Homo sapiens: one gene and its partners. The protein of the gene in region 2 interacts with the protein of the main gene of each other region in a pairwise test. Each region holds a gene or a part of one and is shown on either strand. Other genes may lie near its edges.

The links.
Region 1: the proteins of ZBTB5 (region 2) and SWAP70 interact in binary tests that used the Homo sapiens proteins (3 or more experiments, as listed by UniProt).
Region 3: the proteins of ZBTB5 (region 2) and METTL5 interact in binary tests that used the Homo sapiens proteins (3 or more experiments, as listed by UniProt).

The regions. Positions count from the first base shown.
Region 1 is NC_000011.10:9,659,862-9,667,573, reverse strand, and holds the start of SWAP70 (switch-associated protein 70), read right to left. Parts: upstream 3,498-7,712; 5' UTR 3,395-3,497; coding exon 3,296-3,394; intron 1-3,295.
Region 2 is NC_000009.12:37,462,323-37,469,794, forward strand, and holds the start of ZBTB5 (zinc finger and BTB domain-containing protein 5), read right to left. Parts: upstream 3,129-7,472; 5' UTR 2,893-3,128; exon of another isoform or gene 1,602-2,892; intron 1-1,601. UniProt on the Homo sapiens protein: May be involved in transcriptional regulation.
Region 3 is NC_000002.12:169,814,409-169,821,988, forward strand, and holds part of METTL5 (rRNA N(6)-adenosine-methyltransferase METTL5), read right to left. Parts: coding exon 7,535-7,580; intron 6,866-7,534; coding exon 6,684-6,865; intron 5,236-6,683; coding exon 5,153-5,235; intron 1,971-5,152; exon of another isoform or gene 1,871-1,970; intron 1,121-1,870; coding exon 1,069-1,120; intron 1-1,068. UniProt on the Homo sapiens protein: Catalytic subunit of a heterodimer with TRMT112, which specifically methylates the 6th position of adenine in position 1832 of 18S rRNA.

The DNA.
Region 1 (7,712 bases), on a different chromosome or scaffold from region 2:
AGAAAAAGAATTATAAAGAGTTGTCTGGACAAGGTGGCTCATATCTGAATACCAGCACTTTAGAAGGCCAAGGCGGGCGGATGTCTTTGAGCTCAGGAGTTCAACACCAGCCTGGACAACATGACAAAACCCTATGTCTACAAAAAAATACAAAAATGAACTGAGCATGGTGGCTCATGCCTGTGAGCCTAGCTACTTGGGAGGTGGAGGCTGGAGGATCGCTTGAGCCAGGAAGTGGAGGTTGCAGTGAGCCAAGATAGTGCAACTGCACTCCAGCCTGGGTGACACAGCAAGACCCTGTCTCTCTCTCTCTCTCTCTCTCTCACACACACACACACACAGAAGTGTGAAAATCTTGGTTCTAGATTAGCTACTACTTACAACTGTGACTTTGGACAAATCACTAAACATATCATTGCAGTTGCTCACACCTGTAATCCTAGCACTTCTGGAGGCCAAGTTGGTTAAATTGCCTGAGCTCAGGAGTTCGAGACCAGCCTGGGCAATACAATGAAACCCCGTCTCTACTAAAACATACACACAAAAAAATTAGTCAGGCATGGCAGCGGGCACCTGTAGTCCCAGCACTTTGCAGGGCCAAGGCGGGCAGATCACGAGGTCAGGAGTTTGAGACCACCCTGGCCAATATGGTGAAACCCCATCTCTACTAAAAATACAAAAATTAGCCAGGCTTGGTGGCACGTGTCTGTAGTCCCAGCTACTCAGAAGGCTGAGGCAGGAGAATCGCTTGAACCCGGGAGGCAGAGGTTGCAGTGAGCCGAGATCACACCACTGCACTCTAGCCTGGGTGACAGAGCGCAACTCCGGCTCAAAAAAAAAAAAAAAAAATTAAGAGGTCATCTGGGAATATCTGGAAAAAAAGAATAAAATTTTCTTCTCCTCTTAAGATCTTTAAAAGAGAAATGATGGTTGAAAGCAAAAAATTTAATATTGTCTGATGGGGATTTCAATGTATGTAGATTAATAAATATGACAATTACAACATAAAGCAGTGAGAGTAAAGGGACCTATATGGTGATAAGTTTTCTACATTCTCCTTAAAGTGGTAAAATATTAACTCTAAGTACACTATGAAAAGTTAGGGATGGATATTCTAACTCCTAGAGCAAGTACTAAAAAAACCTACATGAAGAAATATAGTAAAAAACTCTATTAAAATGAAATATTGGCCAGGCACAGTGGGTCACACTTGTAATCCTAGCACTTCATGAAACCAAGGAGGGCAGATCACCTGAGCTCAGGAGTTCAAGACCAGCCTGGCCAACATGGTGAAACCCCGTTTCTACTAAAAATACAAAAATTAGCTAGGTGTGGTGACGCACACCTGCAATCCCAGCTACTTGGGAGGCTGAGGCACGAGAATCTCTAGAACCTAGGAGACAGACGTTGCAGTGAGCCGAGATCACACCACCGCACTCCAGCCTGGGCAACAGGGCAAGACTGTGTCTCAGAAAAAAAAAAAACAAAAAACTAAAGCATATTCAAATAATCCCAAAGATGGAAGAAAAAGAGAGGAAAAAAAAAAAGCAGAAACCAAATTATAATAAAATGGTAGCCCTAAATCAAACCATATCAATAATTACATTAAATGTAAATGGCCTAAATATACCAATTAAAAGACAGAGATTGTCAGAATGAATAAAAAAAAAGACCCAGCTACATCTATTTATTAAAAACTTACTTTAAATAAAATGGCATAGGTAAGTTAAAAGTAAAAATAAAAGTAAAATGTAGACCTACTCATAACTCCCCCGAACTGGAAATAACACAAATTCTCACAGATGCATGGCTAAAAACTACCATACATCCATGCAATAGAATATTACTTAGCAATTTAAAAAATTATTGGTACACACAACAAAATGGATTAATCTCTAAGGCATTATGCTGGGTAAAAGAAATCAGTTTCAACAGTTACAAACTATATGACTCCATTTACATGGCACTTCGGAAAAGGTAAAACTATAGCAATTAGGAAAGATCAATGGTTGCCGACAGTTGGGGTGGAGGCAGGGCAACATCAGGGAGTTTTTTAGGATGATGGAACTGAGGAAGCCATGGTTGTGGTGATAGTTATATAAATCTATACATATGTTGAAATTTATAGAACTGTACACCAAAAGTCAATTTTACTGTATGTTAATATTTAAAAATGAAGTAAAATAAAAATTACGTGGATGATCTCCATGGACCCTTCCAGACTATGATTCTATCAGTGAGAAAAAGAAAGGAGAGGCAAAAGGAAGACAAGGAGAATGTTAAGTCCTACTGGCATAAAAGCCACTACTCAGAAGAACGGGATTACTGTACAAAAATATACAAAACAAACCCAATCTTCAGAATTTATTCCCAGAAGGGGCTAAGAAAACCGGACATTCGGATCTAAAATATGTATATTTTTAAATGCCTATGAATAGCTTTTCTTGTCTGTTTCTATATTTTTTTACTTTGAAGAAGCTGCCAATTTCTGCTGGCTTAATGCCAATTTCGCTGCTTGGGGTTACTCAATTTACAAGCATCCCTTTATTTATACCCTATACTCTAGGGTCTCCGGCAGTCACAATAACGACTCTGAAAAAGCAGTCGCTTTTGCAGGGTGCCAGAAAGATCAGCGCTCCTCACCCGGAACTAAGGTCCCTGTGGGACACAGTACACCCCGTCCACTAGTTCCAAACTTAAAAGACGCTGGGCGGAAGGTCTTCCCAAGTCAAAAAGCCTCCCAAAGGAGAAGGACCCTGGAGGCCGGGCTTCGGGGCATTTCTGCGTCTCCGGACTGCCCTGTCGCCTCCGGGGCAGCTAGCCGTTTTGAGGACTGTCCTGGTGTGGGGCTGTGGGCTGCAGAAGGTTCTGCCCAGCGACCTTGGGCAAGTCCCTTCCTCTCCTGGAGTAAGAGGAAAATTCTGGGAAGGCTGTGTAAGGGAGCTTCCCATTGCCGCCTCAGAATCCACTTTCTGCCCCCCGCTCTCCAACGCCAAGAAGGAATCACACTTGGCCCTCCAGACTTCACCCCAGCCTTATGCCCGCCACCCTTCCCAGTCCCTGGGAGACCCGCGGGAACTAACACATCCAACCGAGGGCATGGCCCGAAGGCAAGGGGGAGGCAGTAAACACCAAATCCCGGTCTCAGACCCACTCCGCCCCAAGCGGGCCTACCGGGCGCATTCCGACCCGCCCCGCCCTGCGGTCACGGCCCGCCAGGTCCCGCTTCCACCCAAGGGAAGTACAGAGCGCGCCGGGGAGGGTCGGGTGGGGGGCCGGGTCAGGAGGCGCCCACCTTGAGCTGGGACTTGGAGACCTTGCCGCTGTGGTCCTGGTCGAGTGCGGTGAAGGCGTGCCAGATGGCTTTGAGCAGCTCCTCCTTCAAGCTCCCCATGGCCGCGGCCCTGCTGCCCCGCCAACCCCTCCTGCCCAGCCAGCCCCTCCGCGCCTCGGACGCCCCTCAACCTCCGCAGCCACAGCCCGCCGCGCAGTCACCTGACCCGCCAGGCCCCGCCCCCGCCAGGCCCCGCCCTGCTGCCGGCGCCGGTCCAGTGCCGCGCCCACAGCCGCCAGAGTGTGGGTTCTGCGAGTCAAGCCACGCCTGGTGGCAAGAATGCTTGGCCTTCAGTGTCAGCCAGGACGGTAAACACATCTCCCTAATGTTTCCCAGACCAGTTCGGGCCATTTTGGGTGCTCGAGTACAACACCTCACACAAATGACCGCGTCTTGAGGAAAAACCCGAGAGATTAGGTGAGCAGCCTACCCGCCTCCTCCCAGCGCCCCGCAGTGAAAAAGGGATCCCTGGTCCTGTCCTGGGAACGGAGTCACTGTCTGAGAAGGCCAGAGAAGACCCCGAAAAGTCCCCAGACCAGGACTGAAATGATAGCGCAGTCCCAAGTCGGGGAGATGCAGGGCGGCGGGGAGGCAGGAAGGACCTCGAGGGAAGTTTGTTGGTTCATTTCGCAAAAGTTTATTCATGCATACTCTATCTTGGGTTCTAGGGACACAGCGACGACGTTTAAGGGGAGTTTAGAAGTCAGGGTCAGGCAGCATTTTCTTCCTAACGCCTAGCTGTTGTTCAATTCACATCTTAGGAGGGGTTTGACCTGGGTAATACCTCTCTGTAGTGTTTCTCTGCTTGCAGAATAGGAGATCTGGGCCAATTCCAAATCACTCCACCCATTTTACTAATCCAAAGAGATGGACCATTTAAAAGAACGTATTCGGCCAGGCGTGGTGGCTCACGCCTGTAATCCCAGCCCTTTGGGAGGCCAAGGCGGGCGGATCACCTGAGGTCGGGGGTTCGAGACCAGCCTGACCAACATGAAGAAACCCCGTCTCTACTAAAAATACAAAATTAGCCGGGCGTGGTGGCACATGCCTGTAATCTCAGCTACTCGGGAGGCTGAGGCAGGAGAATCGCTTGAACCCGGTAGGCGGAGGTTGCAGTGAACCAAGATCGCGCCATTGCACTCCAGCCTGGGCAACAAGAGTGAAACTCCGTCTCAAAAAAAAAAAAAAAAGTATTCGATTGCAGCTGTTGAATTAATATCTGTTCGCGGTGGTCACAATGGTCACTTGATCTCTTTGGGCTTCAAATTATCCCGTATAAAAAGAGCAGGGTTGCACCAGATGTTCTGGAAGGGTTCTTGCAGTACTAGCATCCTAGGATAATAACTATTGCCGGTTAACTAAGGTCTGATTAAATCGCCAGGCTCAGTACCTCTCCTCTCCAATCCTGGACTAATTGGAGAGAACAATAAACACCAAGAGTTTTTAAAATGAGGTGGTTCTCAGATGAAGTTTGGTTTTGTTTTGCTTTTTTAAGTTCCTTAATGCACATGTTTGCCTTATTAAGAAAGGAAAAGATCTTCATAAGAAAGGGATATTTGGAAAGAGAAGAACAAGAAGGAGCCTCTTCAGTGAGTTTGAGATCAAAAAGGAACTGGTGGGGAAGAGGAGAGGATGGCCCCACTGACGAAAGAAGGGGCAGGAGCAAAAGGGTGGCCAGCCCCTCACTGTGACTGTCCTGAAGGTTCTACCCCATTTCATCACCATTTGTCAGGACTTTTCTTGCCCTACCAGAATCCAATTTCTATCATTTATCTTCCCCATTTCCAGCCCAAGTCTGCCAGTCAGCAAAACCACATGGTTTAACCTCTGATTTATTCATGCGAAGTCAGCTTACCCTGAGTAGCAAAAAAAAAAAAAAAAGAAGAAGAAGAAAAAAGAAACGAAGAAAACCTCCTAATTCTCAAGGTTCAGTTTAACCACTATATGACCCTTCTTCTCTCTCAGTATCTGGAAGTACCAAACATATTTCAAAGCCTTTTTTTTATGACAAGACCAGGACATTGTGGACTTCCAAATTCCTACTTCTCCCATCATCCTCATTCATACAATCCAAACGCATTTTTTTTCTTTTTTTTTCTTTTCTTTTTTTTTTGAGACAGAGTCTCACTCTGTTGCCCAGGCTGGAGTGCAACGGTATGATCTCAGCTCACTGCAACCTCCGCCTCCCGGGTTCAAGCGATTCTCCTGCCTCAACCTCCCAAGTAGCTGGGATTACAGGCGCCAGCCACCACGCCCGGCTAATTTTTTTATTTTTAGTAGAGATGGGGTTTCGCCATGTTGGCCAGGTTGGTCTCAAACTCCCAGCCTCAAGTGAGCTGCCCTCCTTGGCCTCCCAAAGTGCTGGGATTACAGGCGTGAGCCACCATGCCCTTCCTATCCAAACAAATTTTAAAGTAGCATGATGTCATAGAAAGCGCTGTGCTTTTCCTGGGTGCAGTGGCTCCTGCCTGTAATCCCAACACTTTGAGAGACTGGGGTGGGAGGATTGCTTGAGGCCAGGAGTTCAAGACCAGCCTGGGCAATGTAGCAAAACCCCGTCTCCACAAAAAAATTGAAAATAAGAAAGAAAGAAAAGTAAAGAGTTGTGCTTCAGAATCTAACAGATTATATTAATCTAATGCTGTGTAACCAATTAACCCAAAATTTAGCAGCTTAAAACTATAGTAAACATTATTTCATATTTTCTGTAAGTCAGGAATTTAGAAGCCACTTAGCTCTATAGTTCTGGCTTGAAGTGTCTCAGGAGGTTGCAGTAAAATATAGGGCTGTAGTCATTTGAAGGCTAGGCTGATGCTGGAAAATCTATTTCCAAGGTGGTTCACTCACATGGATGGGTCGTTTACAGAAGGCCTCAGTTCCTCTGTATATGGGCCTGTCCTCAGGCTGCTTGAGTATCCTTACAACACGTCAGCTGGCTTTCAATTGATTCAAGAAAGAGAAAGATGGAAGTTGCAATGTCTCTTACGATCCACCATCAAAAGTCATTCACCATCATTTCTGCAATGCTCTACTGATTGCTCAGGTCAAATCTATTTGATTTGGGAGGGAAACTACAAAAGGATATGAGTACCAATGGGCAAGAATCATGGGGGTCATCTTGGAAGATGGCTACCACACAGATGTCGGGAAGAATCCGGGCTTCCCCATTGACTCATCTATGAGTAAATATAAGGCTTCATTTCCTCATATGTAAAATGAGAATGCTAATATTTATTTTGCAACACTTCTTTTTTCTTTTTTTAATTTTTTTTTTTTTTTTTACAGCCCAGAGGTCCTTTATTTTTTTTTTTAACACCTATTATGCCATGAATTCATAGGAAATAGGTTCCAGCAGCTCAGGCTGCTTCCCGTTGGTTCTCACAAAGTGTGCTTCTCTGGGTGGAGCAGGCTGGCGCTTTAGTTGAACCCAGGTACCTTTCTCTTTGGCGTCTTTCTTTTTCTGATCATTTTCCTTCACGTGTTTCAGGAAGCTATCTCGGCTCTTAGAGTGCTTAATGTGCTCAATACGCACCTTAATTCTCTTGGCAAGAATCTTGCCCTTAACTTGTTTGTTTACAACAATGCCAACAGCATGCTGGGTAACATTGTAGACTCTTCCAGTTTTGCCATGGTAACACTTGTGGGGCATTCCTTTTTGAGCAGTACCCATTCCCTTGATGTCTACAATATCAGCTTTCTTATAGATTCGCATATATGTGGCCAAAGGAACAACTCCATGTTTTCTAAAAGGCCTAGAGAACATATATCGGGTGCCTCTCCTCTTTCCCTTTGTGTTCGTCATTTTGGCGAATTACTGGAAGATGGCGGTTCCGGCCGAAAGGAAACTTTTTTTTTTTTTTTTTGAGACGAAGTCTTGCTGTCACCCAGGCTGGAGCGCAGTGGCTTGATCTTGGCTCACTGCAATCTCTGGCACCTGGGTTTAAGCAATTCTCCTGCCTCAGCCTCTGAAATAGCTGGGATTACAAGCGCGTGCCACCATGCCCAGCTAATTTTTGTATATTTAGTAGAGATGGGGTTTCAGCATCTTGGCCAGGCTGGTCTTGAACTCCTGACCTCGTGATCCACCCTGCCTCGGCCTCTCAAAGTGCTGGGATTACAGGCGTCAGCCACCGCACCCGGCCTCTTTTTTTAATTTTTATTTTTTTGATGAGGTCTTTCCAGATGAGATCTATTTTGCAAGACTGGTATGAAGTTTAAATGAGAGGGTAGTATGTATAAGACACAGCATCAGCATCATGGTATCTGACAGTCACTGATGTTTGTACTGTGTCAATTAGGTAAGTTGAAATCTAGTTCCTCAAATGTCCGTTCCCAATGTGGATCCAGGATAGGATTCACTACAGAAGAATTTCGTGTA
Region 2 (7,472 bases):
CTAGGCAGACAGGGGCACATCCCCAGTGAAACCCCACCTCCAAGCCGAAGACAGTTTAAAAGCTTGAAAGCCAAGCTACAAGTCAAATCCACGGACCAGATTGAGAACCTGTGTTCCCATTTGGCATGCTTTCCTCTGACTGATCCCCACCCTTCACCTATTTTACATATATCTACCCCTTTCCTAATTGGTTTTCTACACTGTCGTGCCCACCTTTGAGTGGTGTCTTTGCTTTAACCGTTTTTTTTTTTTTTTTGAGACAGGGTCTCACTCTGTCTCCAAGACTCCAAGTGTGCAGTGGCATGCTCTCAGCTCAATGCAACTTCTGCCTCCCAGGCTCAAGCGATTCTTCCGCCTCGGCCTCCTGAGTAGCTGGGATTACAGGCGCACGTCACCATGCCGGGTTAATTTTTGTATTTTTAGTAGAGACAGGGTTTCACCATGTTGGCCAGATTGGTCTTGAACTCCTGAGCTCAGGCAATCTGCCCGCCTCAGCCTCCCCAATTGCAGTAATTACAGGCGTGAGCCACCACACCCGGCCTTCCCTTTAAACTTTTTGCATCAGAAACCAATCAGCACACACTCCCCATTCTGAGTCCCTAAGAAGCCCCGGAACCAGCCACACTGGGAAAGAGACCACCCCCTGCATGCCCTCTTCTCTGAGAGCTGTTCCATCACTCAATAAAATTCTTCTCTGCCCTCCTCACCCTTCGAATTGTCAGAGTAACCTAATCTGTTTGGGATGTCAAGATAAATCAAAGCTTTTAGGAAATACATGTATAACTAATAAAATGAAAGGCACCTCTAAAACTGGATCTTGAAATTAAAAGCTACTATTCAGTGGTGAAAATGATGAGAACATATGCAAAGAGCAATAGTTCACTCAGAAACAGCTGGTCTTTTAGGAGATGAGAAGTTCACTTCATACTTAGACAAAAGGCATAGTGTAGTGCTACATTCCATCCCACCTGCTACACTAACAAAACTGGCTCTACTAGACAACATCCATATTTGAGAAATATTACGTACAGTAAAAGAAAAATCACACGCTTAAAACTGACAGAGGGGGAAAGTATTTAAAATTAATTTACATTAAAAAAAAAGTTGAAAGCTAACATAGAATCAATACCTTGGGTTCTTTTTTCCATTTCCAAAACGAATGTGAGCCAGATTCAAGATTCTCTGTCAGCACTACACCAGGTTTTGTCAATTTCACTGAACACAAGATATTTTAAAGTCTCCAATTCGATATAATTCATGCTGAGTTCTTTAAGTACTATTTGATATCCCAGTGATTTTTTATTACTTCCACTTTGGGGACAGTCTTGTGAGTCTCTTTTGAGAGCGTTCGCTCCTAAGTCTGTAAGATGCCTTTCCTCCAAATCTTACCATTTTCAGAATTCTGCTAGAGACATATCAATTAACCAAAATCCAGCTTGCCAGCATCCTCAGCTAACTAAAAGTTATGTTTTGACACAACTTTTAGGGAAAAGGGGCAAATCTCTAGTAAACGAGTTGACTTCAGGACTCTTCAAAAAAAGAGTCTGTTTATTCAGCAAAACCCAAGGGCCCAAAACAGGTCCCCACCCAAGTAGTCTTACCTGTAAGGTCACCAAGCTGGCTGTGGTGGCCAGGTCAATCTTCCCAAATTTGATGAGATTTCCATAAGGGTTAAAAGGAAGAGTGAACGGTTTCCTTTGGCTTAGGGGCTTTTCTCTAAAATTCCTTGTCTTCTTCCCATCTGGACTTTTCCCTCTGAACTATTAGCTTACTGCCAACCACCGTCCCCACAGAAATCACAAGAGTTTAGGCAAATGAAAAGCAAGTTCTGCCCAGCCTTTTACATCTAAGCACAACAGCCCATACTAGGACAACAAATTACCAATGACTTAATGACTAAGGCACAGCATTCTCTTCAACCTCTAAAGAAAAGCCCGTAATGTCCTCTACTTAATACAAGTGAAAAATATGAGAACATGTTTTGGAATATTTTTGCTTCAATTTTTGAAGGTGAAGAGTTCCTTCTATTAATTCAAGTTAACTAGAGTCAGAAGATACTACTTAGTAATCAACTTTACTGTGCTTTCACCTAAAATTTTTCCTCCAAATTATTTAGGATTTGCCTTCTGTTCAGAAAATTAGTTTCCACAATATCCTTCACTATGCCAGAATGCTGACTGACTTAAAAAAAAATGACCATTATGAAAGGAAAAAACTAACCTTCAACACCCCTTAATTCACTGCCTTTTATTATTTACATACAAATCTGTCCTCCAAACAGGAGAAGATGGGACGGCAGTGTCTTACCACCGCATCCCCCACAGCTCCTCGCACGAAGCCTGGGAGTAGTGGGCATTCAATAAATGCCTATTAAACACTTCAGTCCTCTCATAACAAGTTGGGGCATTCCGAAACACTGGCTCCACCCCTCCAGGGTCGGCCGCTGGCTCCCGATGGCAGTCTGCCTATGGCCTTGCTCTGGTGAAATGAAACCTCGTCGCTCAAGACCCAGGATGGGGGCAAGGGAGCCGTCCGACCACATCCCGCAGGGCAGCAGATCCTCTCTTCATCCCGCCAGGCCGCTGGTCCTGAGGCCTTTCCCACCCCATTCGGGAACCTACGTCGCCAGCCGGGGATCCACAGGAGTACCAGCCCCCGCCCCACCCCGCAGACAGCCTGGCGTCGGGACACCGGGGACGCCTGCGCAGAAGAACCCGCCTGGCCCCTTGGCTCCAACGGTAACAATGCTCCCCTCCGAAAGACAGCCAGAGTAGTCCGGGGGCACCAGTACACGTCTGCGCGCTCCCCGACGCCTTGGCGCGCCCCTGGTGCTCAACCTTCCCCACGTGAGCGCGCCCGCCATCACGATACTCGCTGACGGGGTCTCCTCACCTGAGTCGGGCTCCGCCCCCCTCCTCCTCGCTGAAGGAGGCGGTGACCCCTCTCCGATCGGACTCGGCAGTGTCAGAGGAGGTGGGAACGTCCTGACCAGCGTCTCCGTTACGGGACTTCCTCCCCCTTCCACCCGCCCCCCTCCCACCCCGCCTCTAGTCCCCTAGCTCCTCCAGCCAGTTCGCCGCAGCACTCTGAGAACACGGCGGCGGCGCCCGAGGATAAGCGGAAGTGACGTAATGCAAGAGCGCCTACTCCGCCCCATTCCGCCTCTCCCAGTTGGGCTGCAACCAATCAGCAATGGGAAGGGCGGGGCCGGGGTAGGAGTGCAGCCAGCCGGCGCGCGGAACCTGGAGGAATTTACTTAGCCCCCGGAAAAACTGACCAATCCACGGTCCCTGAAGTCTGGTTGTGTTTACTACCGACTGAATCCGTGAGCTCTCTGACCAATCACCCTTTGCCTTACAACATGTAAAACGGTTATCAAATGCCTTTTAGGGCGGGATTTATCACTAAACTGCTCCAGGTTTGGACTATAGAAATGCGGCTGTTCGCTGCAACCAATCAAAACCCTCTGTGGTTTAGGCTAGCGGGCTTTCCGCCTAAATCCGCCAATCACAACAACGACTGCGTGATGTCTGAGGGCGCCGGAGAGGCGGGCCCTCAGGGCAGGCCGTACCGCCATTGGCTGGTTCTGAAGGATTTTTCCACCCTCGTGGTGCCCGGCGCTTTAGTGACCCAGGGCTCTTCTCCGGGGTGAATTCCCTTCGCTGAACACACACACACACACACACGTAGAGGGCTGGAGATTGAGTTCCCACTTCATAGACGTTGGGAAAGATAAGATTCCAAAAAGCTCTTTAGGTTTAACTAAGCCAAAGTCCAGGGTGAAAACCGCGAATAAAAAACGCTGTCCATCGGATGGCAGTTAGGTCGGACCCCGCCCCTCGTCCAGTCCGGGTGGCTGCGCGTCTGGAAACGGTGGCGCCCCAGGAGCCCGGCGCTTGGCCCCGCACTCGGCTGCAGGTCAAATAAGCCTGTAGTCTGCATGCCCAGATTTATAATCACCTGCACTCCCCCCACAAAAAAATAGGAAGCGCTAAGCTCTCCCACTCCTGTCCCAAACGTGGAAGGGTCGCGGACTTGTATGGGACGCGGTCTGAAAAAAGCGAGCCCCGGGGCGACGCTCGGGTTTCCAGGTGCACCCTCGGAGGGAGAACCCGATCCCTGAGCATCGGACACTGGGGCCAGGGAAGAAACCCCCTTTCCTAGGGTGAGGACGGCAGAAGAAAGCTGCCTTCTCCGGCGCAGCGTGTCTGGGAGCGCTGCGTGGCTCTGGAGACAAAGGCAGGCCCGCGAACTCAGCTGGGTTCTTCTGGGGGTGGGGGTAAGGGTCTTGGAGGAGCTCCCAGAAAAATGGAACTCCCAGCCGGGCGCGATGGCTCACGCCTATAATCGCAGCAATTGGGAAGGCTGAGGCGGGCAGATCGCCCGAGATCAGGAGTTCGAGACCAGCCTGGCCAACATGGTGAAACCCTGTCTCTACTAAAAGTACAAAAATTAGCCGGGCGTGGTGGTGGGCGCCCGTAATCCCAGGCAACTACTCGGGAGGCTGAGGCAGGAGAATCGCTTGAACCCGGGAGGCGGAGGTTGCAGTGAGCTGAGATCGTGCCGCTGCACTCCAGCCTAGGCAACAGAGTGAGATTTCGTCTGGGGGGAAAAAAAAGGAACTCCCCGCTTTAAGAATGGAACACACCGAATACCCCTACAGCAGATTCCATCCCTTCAGTTACTGGTCGGAAGTGTTGATTTCAAAAAGCAACCTGTTTGCGTGGATTTCTTTAAGGGCTCGGTGGAGTCTGATGTTTAATTCTTTTCCTTAAGATTCGCTGACACTATAGCCATCACACATATTTTACTGACAGATTGATCGGTAAAATAAGGAAAATATGGAATGATGACAGTAAGCCAGGCAATAGGAGAGATTCTTTTGCGTATCTGTCTCTCAACGGTAAATGCCATGACCTAGATTGCCTCAGATTTACAGGCTGGCAAAAGTTTTAAAAATTGTATATTCAGAATTTAGGAGTGTGTGGAAGTGGACACCCGCTATATTGTGGACGGGGGTGTCACTGATGCCCTGTTTGACGATCACTTCGTAGTATCTATCAAAATTTAAAATATGCATTTGTTCCCTTCTAGATGGTAATTCCTTTCTAGAAATATATGCTACCGAAATACAAAGATGTGGAATAATAAACCCAAGGCTGTTTACCACACCTTTGTAAGTACAAGGGGCGGGGGGGGGGGGGTAAGTGGACAACAAACCTAAATGTGTAACTAAAGAAGATTACAAAAATTTGATAAATATGTATCATGGCTCCTTCATGACTAAGGCTCCTATAGATACAAAACGAAAGTAATAAAACCCTGCGGCCAGGCGCGGTGGCTCACGCCTGTAATCCCAACACTTTCGGAGGCCGAGGAGAGTGGATCACGAGGTCAGGAGTTCGAGGCCAGCCTGACCAATATGGCGAAACCCCATCTATATTAAAAAAGTACAAAAATTAGCCGGGCTTGGTGGCTCATGCCTGTAATCCCAGCTTCTCAGGAGGCTGAGGCAGGAGAATCGCTTGAACCCGGGAGGCGGAGGTTGCAGTGAGCCGAGATTGCGCCACTTCACTCCAGCCTGGGTGACAGAGAGAGACTCCGTTTCAAAAAAAAAAAAAAAAAAAAAAAAAGAGCGGGTCTCCTTAATTTTTATTTAACAGACAGGTGTTGTTACTTTAATAGTATTTAGGAAAACCTGGAATTTCAGGTTGCTTAGATTTTCTAATCACTGACAAAATTATTCCTAAAGTAACCTATACATTTCTCGAAAAATGTATCAATAAGATACTTTCTGAAATTAGACAAATAAGTTCTAAGATTCATAAGGGGAGATAATATTGAAAGAATAGGCAAGACAGTCATGGAAAAAATAAGTTGGGTATCTACCTGTGAGGCAGGATAACAAGGTCTGGAGGCGGGGACCCTCAGGCCGACTCCTGCTGACTGGATATCAGAAGCCACTCTCTTTTCACCCACGCCTTTTTCTGCGTGGCAGTTGCTCCGTGGCAGTTGCAAGCCCTCCTTTTTCTGTCTGGCAGTTGAAAAATGAAAATACCGGCCGGGCGTAGTGGCTCACGCCTGTGATCCTAGCACTTTGGGAGGCCGAAGCGGACGGATCCCTCAGATCAGGAGTTCGAGACCAGCCTGGCCAACATGGCGAAACCCCGTCTCTACTAAAAGGACAAAAATTAGCCGGGCGAGGTGGTGGGCGCCTGTAATCCCAGCTACTCAGGAGGCTGAGGCAGGAGAATAGCTTCAACCTGGGAGGCGGAGGTTGCAGTGAGCCGAGATCGCACGCCACTGCACTCCAGCCTGGGCGACAAGAGCGAGACTTGGTCTCAAAAAAAAAAAAGAAAGAAAGGCAAGGCAGGGCAGGGGAAGGCAAGGCAGGGCAGGGCAGGGCAGGGCAAGGCGCAGGGCAAGGCAGGGCAAGGCAGGGCAAGGCAGGGCAGGGCAAGGCAAGGCAAGGCAAGGCAAGGCCTCTGATAGCTCCTCTCCTGAAAAAATCAGACTGATCATGGGCCCACTCTTCATGCTGACTGGTCCCTTCCTGCAACCAATCAAACTGGTTACTGGCCTACTCTTCATTCTGACTGGTCCCCTCCCGCAACCAATCAGACTGATGGTGGGCCAATGGGAAACCTCTGGAGGTATTTAAACTCCAAAAAATTCTGTATCCCACGCTTTTCAGGCTTGTTCAACCCTGCTCCCACCCTGTGGCGCGTACTTTTGTTTAAAATAAATTTCTGCGGCTGGGCGCTGTGGCTCACGCCTGTAATCCCAGCACTTTGGGAGGCCGAGGCGGGCAGATCACGAGGTAAGGAGATCGAGACCATCCTGGCTAACACGGTGAAACCCCGTCTCTACTAAAAATACAAAAAAATTAGCCAGGCATGGTGTCGGGCGCCTGTAGTCCCACCTACTTGGGAAGCTGAGGCAGGAGAATGGCGTGAACCCAGAAAGCGGAGCTTGCAGTGAGCCGAGATCGAGCCACTGCACTCCAGCCTGGGTGACAGTGCGAGACTCTGTCTCAAAACAAAACAAAACAAAAATTAGCCAGGCATGGTGGCACACACCTGTGATCCCAGCTACTCGGGAGGCTGAGGCAGGAGAATCGCTTGAACCCAGGAGGCGGAGGCTGCGGTGAGCCAAGATCGCGCCATGGTGCTACAGGTTGGGCAACAAGAGCAAAACTCCGTCTCGATAAATAGATAAATAAATAAATTTCTGCTTTCACTTCCTTGCTTTGTTTGTGTGTTTTGTCCAATTCTTCAAAATGCCAGAGAACATGGACAACTACCTTCAAGTGGTAATACCTGACTTTTTACAACAAATTTAATATCAATTTAATCAAATATAATATTTTTAAGCCAAACTATAATAGCAAAAGAAGAAAACCTGGAAAGAATTTTTTTTTTTTTTTTTAAGATAGAGTCTTGCTCTGTCGCCCAGGCTAGGGCAGTGGCACG
Region 3 (7,580 bases), on a different chromosome or scaffold from region 2:
CCCGGGAGGTGGAGGTTGCCACTGCACTCCAGCCTGGGTAACAGAGCAAGGCTTTGTCTCAAAAAAAAAAAAAGAAAAAAGAAAATGAAATTAGATTATCTAGGAATAATGTGGTGGCATTTTCTATGAATGAATTTCAAACCAAGATCTGACCAACTCCAAGCCCACTTTTTTTTTTTTTTTTGAGATGGAATCTCACTCTGTTGCTTAGGCTAGAGAGCAGTGGCGCGATCTCAGCTCACTGCAAGCTCCGCCTCCCAGGTTCACACCATTCTTCTGCCTCAGCCTCCTGAATAGCTGGGACTACAGGTGCCTGCCACCACACCTGGCTAATTTTTTTGTATTTTTAGTAGAGACGGGGTTTCACCATGTTAGCCAGGATAGTCTCAATTTCCTGACCTCGTGATCCGCCTGCCTCAGCCTCCCAAAGTGCTGGGATTACAGGCGTGAGCTACCGCGCCCGGCCCACTTTTTTTTTTCATTTGTTTGTTTTTGTTTTTTTGAGACTGAGTCTCCTCTGTCATCCAGGCTGAAGAACAGTGGTGCGATCTCGGCTCACTGCAACCTCTGCCTCTGGGACTCAAGCGATTCTCCCGCCTCAGTCTCCCAAGTAGCTGAGATTACACGTGTGCGCCACCATGCCTGGCTAATTTTTTATATTTTTAGTAGAGATGGGGTTTCACCATGTTGGCCAGGCTGGTCTTGAGCTCCAAACCTCAGGTGATCTGCCCACCTTGGCCTCCCAAAGTGCTAGGATTACAGGCGTGAGCCACCACACCTGGCCCCCAGCCCATGTTTTTAGCCATTGTGCTGCTATACAGTGTTCTGCCTGAGTCTGGAGTGACCAAATACCTGAGTGCTATTAGAAATTTTCAGTAAATCGCATAAATTAGGACAGTCTCAGGCTAAGTGTTCATTCTGCTTTTACTCCATTTCCAATCTATTACCAATCATGCACATTTTGCCACACTGTAAAGCATAGTTTATCTTCTCAGCACCTGCATGAAAATTTTGGTTGGGCGAATACATGTTGGCCCTTTTGGATATTAGGATTGAGATTTGTCTTACCTGCTATAATATCTATCTTGATTTTCCATTCTGCAGCTTTCTTTTGAACATGCTGAACATAAATAATATGTTGTTATGAGCTGATTTTTAAATAATGATTTTTTAAAATTGCTTTTTACTAATACTTGAGATTGAGTTTTTAAGCTTAAAATTTCATTAGAATCTAGACCCTTATAAAAATTTCAATTGAATGGATAGTATTCTGAAAATAATAAATCAATTTCAATACATTTAACAATCTGAACCAAATCACACAATAAATCCAAGTGATAGAAAGCTACTCATGCACCACATAATGCCATTTGGGGTTATCTAGGGACTGCATATATTTTGGTAGTCCCATAAAATTATAAATGGAGCTGAAAAATTGCTATTGCCTAATGATGTAGCTATCTTGACATCACAGCACAACACATTACCTTCTTGGTGTTTATATATGTTTAGATCAAAAGAATACCATTGTGTTACAATTGCCTGTAGTATTCAATACAGTAATAGGTTGACAGGTTTGTAGCCTAGGAACAACAGACTATAACCACAGAGCCTCGGTGGTCCACTCTATGTTTGCACAATGATGAAATCACCTCAGAATGCATTAGTCAGAACATATCCCTGTTGTTAAAGGATGCATGACTATTTCAGAAATCTATCAAAGATGTGTAATGTTCTCATATGGTTTCTGTAGCATTATTTCATTGATATATACAGCTAGCTAGCCTAGAAACCATTTGGCAGAGATATAGGTACATGGGGAATTCAGTTCATGCAGTAAAACTGAGTTTTATAAAATTCATGTTATGCCAAGACTATACTTTCAGGGATCATTTCTATAGTTCGTTACTAGAGAAGTTTCTCCGAAAGTGTAGAGCACTGTATCATGAAAATGGCCATACTACCCAAGGTAATTTATAGATTCAATGCTATCACCATCAAGCGACCACTGACTTTCTTCACAGAATTGGAAAAAACTACTTTAAATTTCATATGGAACCAAAAGAGCCCACATAGCCAAGACAATCCTAAGCAAAAAGAACAAAGCTGGAAGCACCATGCTACCTGACTTCAAACTATACTACAAAGCTACAGTAACCAAAATAGCATGGTACTGGTACCAAAACAGATATATAGACCAATGGAACAGAACAGAGGCCTCAGAAATAACACCACACATCTACAACCATCTGATCTTTGACAAACCTGACAAAAACAAGCAATGGGAAAAGGATTCCCTATTTAATAAATGGTGCTGGGAAAACTGGCTAGCCATATGCAGAAAACTGAAACTGGATCCGTTCCTTACACCTTACATGAAAATTAACTCAAGATGGATTAAAAATCTAAATGTAAGACCTAAAAACTCTAGAAGAAAACCTAGGCAATACCATTCAGGACATAGGCATGGGCAAAGATTTCATGACCAAAACACCAAAAGCAATGGCAACAAAGCCAAAATTGATAAATGGGATCTAATTAAACTAAAGAGCTTCTGCACAGCAAAAGAAACTATCATGAAAGTGAACAGGCAGCCTACAGAATGGGAGAACATTTTTGCAATCTATCCATCTGACAAAGGGCTAATATCCAGAATCTATAAACAACTGAAACAAATTTACAAGAAAAAAAAACCCATCAAAAAAGTGGGCAAAAGATATGAACAGACACTTCCCAAAAGAAGACATTTATGCAGCCAACAGACATATGAAAAAATGCTCATCATCAGTGGTCATCAGAGAAATGCAAATCAAAACCACAATGAGATACCATCTCATACCAGTTAGAATGGCAATCATTAAAAAGTCAGGAAACAACAGATGCTGGAGAGGATGTGGAGAAATAGGAATGCTTTTACACTGTTAGGAGTGTAAATTAGTTCAACCATTGTGGAAGACAGTGTGGAGATTCTTCAACGATCTAGAACTAGAAATACCATTTGACCCAGCCATCCCATGACTGGGTATATACCCAAAGGGTTATAAATCATGCTGCTATAAAGACACATGCACATGTATGTTTACTGCGGCACTATTCACAATAGCAAAGACTTGGAACCAACTCAAATGTCCATCGATAATAGACTGGATAAAGAAAATGTGGCACATATACACCATGGAATACTATGCAGCCATAAAAAAGGATGAGTTCATGGGATGAAGCTGGAAACCATCATTCTCAGCAAACTATCACAAGGACAGAAAACCAAACACCGCATGTTCTCACTCATAAGTGGGAGTTGAACAACGAGAACACATGGACACAGGGAGGGGAACATAACACACGGGGGCCTGTTGGGGGGTGGGGGGCTGGCGGAGAGATAGCATTAGGAGAAATACCTAATGTAAATGACAAGTTGATGGGTGCAGCAAACCAACATGGCACATGTCTACGTATGTAACCTGCATGTTGTGCACATGTACCCTAGAACTTAAAGTATAATTAAAAAAAAAATTCATGTTATGCCAAGCTGTGCAGAAAAGAGTTCACAGCAGGCCTGGCTGCTTATCCTTAGAAAGGCCTGCTTAGTTTGGCCCTTGTCTGGAGACTGGGAACTTAGATTTTGGGAAGCCTCCCACTCCCTACTCCCTTAATAATAGTGACTGACTGTGCCTAACACTGTTTATGCTGAACACCTGTTTTCCTACTGGGAGTCTAGAATTTGGGTATGTGTCAGAAAGGGAATTGCCTACATGATCAGTCCCTAATAAAAGCCCTGGGCACTGAGTCTCTAATGAGCTTCCCTGGTTGGCAATGTTTCACATGTGTTATCAATAATTCATGCTGGGAAAATTAATTGTGTCCTGTGTTATTCTACTGGCAGAAGACTCCAGAAGCCTGGCCCTGGTTTACCCCATTCTCTGCCTAATGCACCTTTCTCCTTGCTGATTTTGCTCTATATCCTTTCACTGTAATACATCATAGCCATGAATAAGACTAGATGCTGAGTCCTGTGAGATTTCCTAGTGAATCATCAAACCTGAGGGTGTTCTTGGGGACACAGGTTTGGATACCAATGTTTACTGGTGTTTGCTTTCATATATAGTGAGTGAGGATTTATTTACTAGCTATGTTGTGTCCTGTTGCTTGCCTACATGTACCACTACTTATTATTAGCAGTATAGTTCTTTTTAGCTGTTATATTTTATGCTTTTTAAAAGGTTATCACATTACCATGTAACTAGAATGTATTATTTCCAACTGGGTTCTTACGTACTGTATTTACATGAATTAAGTATTTTTCCTACAAAAGCACTTTAAAATCTTTGAATACATGTATGATTTAAATAATAATAGCTAACACATAGCAATTACACATGTCAGACACTGATCTAAGTGCTTTGTAAATATTAACTCATGTAATCCTCACAATTCTTATGAAGTACAATTGGTACTCTCAGTCCCTTACACTTAGAGTACAGGTGAGGATAGTATAGATGACAAAAGCTCAATTACCTTGATGATGAAACTCAATTACCTTGACCAAGAAAACAGCTGGGAGGCAGCAGAACTTGGATCTGAACCCAGAGAATCTGGTCTGGCTTCAGAATCTCTGTTCCTAACTATTGTGTTATACTGACACTAAAAAAATGTACTGCCCCTTCCCCCAGTTTCCTGGACTACAACTTATACACCTCTCCATGTGTTATATGCTGCAAAAGTAAGAATAGGTGATTTCTGAACTCAGATCTGTTTAGCTCCAGGCTCAAGTGTTCTGAAAACCTGGCCTTACTGCCTCCCTTAAGTACATCAGGCCACACCGGGACAATGGGACAAAAGGGATCAACTAAGACTTACTCAGAGAAACCAAAACATACAGTAATCCTAGTTACAACACACTTTTCTACTCCTGAGTTATAGTCTCTCCTCTGGCAACAGTTCCTGTCTGAAAAAAATCTTTGAGGAAATAAGTCTTATAGCCTGGAAAAAGGCCAATCAGATGCTAGCTGGTTAAGTGGAAAATTTAAGTTTCACATGTCAAAATGGTCAGGAGAAATAGATACTGTGGTATCTAGTATTCACAGCAAATCCTAAAAACACTGTCATGAATTTAAAAATCAATGCCACAGAATATCAGATGATTTGAACTTACTTCTCTAGTTGAGGATTTGTGTAAGGAATATACTGCTGTTCTTGCCATTTCCAAAGCAGTCTTTAGAAAAGCCATATCTGTCCCTGTGAAGAGTAGAAAAAAAGCTCCTATTTACCTCTTCTCAAAACAGAAGATTAAGTTAGTAGGATTTAGAAATATTTTCTTCCAAACTTCAAAATAGCCACCTTGAAATCTTTTAGCAATAAGGGTACAAATAAACTATCAAAATATTATTTTAAGGCTGGTAGAATAAAACCAGAATTATACTGTCTTGGTTAAATAAGGATAAAGTAAAAATTTTAATATTATATTCCAACATTAATGACTTCAAAAAGGGGAGAAGGAAATGCATAGAGTACTATTCAGAATCATCTTGGTGGGGGCAGGGTACTTTTTAAACTATGCATGTCTTTTTTTTTTTTGTTTCGCTCTTGTTGCCCAGGCTGGAGTGCAATAGCATGATCTCAGCTCACCGCAACCTCCGCCTCCCGGATTCAAGTGATTCTCCTGCCTCAGCCTCCCTAGTGGCTGGGATTACAGGCATGTGCCACCATGCCTGGCTCATTTTGTATTTTTAGTAGAGACGGGGTTTCTCCATGTTGGTCAGGCTGGTCTCAAACTCCCGACCTCAGGTAATCCACCCACCTCAGCCTCCAAAGTGCTGGGATTATAGGCGTGAGCCACCACGCCCGGCCAAACTATGCATGTCTTTTCCTACCCTCACTGACTTCCTAACCTCCTTGCCCACAGTACACACAAAATTAACAGCCACGGTGAGTCACTGTTACTGATGGGCACATGTAGAAACCCTTGGGTCTGTTAAGACATTAAAAAACAGATTCTGAAAGTATAAAATTCTTTCTATGTTTCGTATTCATTCATAAGGGTTAGGCAAATTATTCCTGAAAGCAAATGGGAGATATACAATAAATGACATGACTATCTTTGTTTACTTAATACAAATTTGTAAAAATGAAAGTTGAAAAACTCAGTTTCTTAGCCATGCATTAAACAAATTGAAATGTAAATTATAAGAACTATACAAATAAGAGATTGGTTTACTTAATGAAGAGTAATAACATCACTTAGCCTTGGTTTATTTAATGAAGAGTGATAAAATCACTTAGCCCAAACAGTGATAAAAATGGTTTTTATTTTTGTTTAATTTTTTCTAGACAGGGTCTTGCTGTTACCAAGGCTGGAGTGCAGTGGCACATTCATGGCTCATCGCAGCCCCGAATACCTGAGCTCAGGTGATCCTCCCACCTCAACCTTCTGAGTAGCTAGGACTATAGGTGCACCACCACACTTGGGAAATTAAAATTTGTGTGTGTGTGTGTGTGTGTGTGGGTAGAGGCAGGGTCTAACTATGTTGCCCGGGATGGCTACCAATTCCTGGCCCCAAATGATCCTCCTGTATCAGCCTCGCAAAGCACTGGCATTACACGCCTGAGCCACTGCGCCTGGCCTTAAAAATGGTTTTAAAATCTTTTCTATAAATATACCAATATACCCGATTCTTGTTACAAACCTTTATTATTTTTGGTCCCAAAGGGAGGATTCATAATTACTGTATCGAATGACTTGGACATTCTGTTAGATAATAAGCACACATCACATTGAACCATGTCAATATTTGTTAACTCAAACTCTTCTGCATTCCTATTAAATATTTCCAATGCGTCTTCATCTATGTCAAATCCAACACACAACCTATAAATACAAAACACATACAAAGAGTGGCGACTTATAGCTCCCAAGTAAAAACAAAACCAAAATTAGCTGTTTTTTTTTTAAACCATATATCTTTTTAACCCAATTAGCAAAGTAAGAGTGAGTGTTTTCTTCTTTTTTTTTTTCTTTTTTCAGACAGGATCTTGCTGTGCCACCCAGGTGAGTGTAGTGGTGCCATCTTGCACTGCTCAAGCAATCCTCCCACCTCAGCCTCCCAAGTAGCTGGGACCACAGGCGCACACCACCACATCCAGCTAATTTTTGTATTTTTTGTAGACATGGGATTTCACCATGTTGCCCAGGCTGGTCTCAAACTCCTGGGCTCAAGTAATCTGTCCACCTTGGCCTCCCAAAGTGTTGGGATTACAGGCATGAGCCACTGTGCCCAGTCAAGTGTAACAGCATAATTTCCAAACCCGGCAGGGGTTGGAAACTCAGGTTTGTATAAAAGGAACTGCTGCTTTCACCATTTTTATTTAATTTTTGTAGTTTGTTTAGATCTTCTGCCCATTCAAAATGTATTCAGTATCAGATTTTTGCTCCCTATATCTCATTCTGTGGAGTCTCATAAATATAATTCAGTTAATCCCATTGATGCTCCTTATTAAAGCCACCCAATACCCAAATAGCATATATTGCATTACGTACCCTGCTCCTAACATTGCAGTTCCGATGCTAAGTACTCCACAACCAC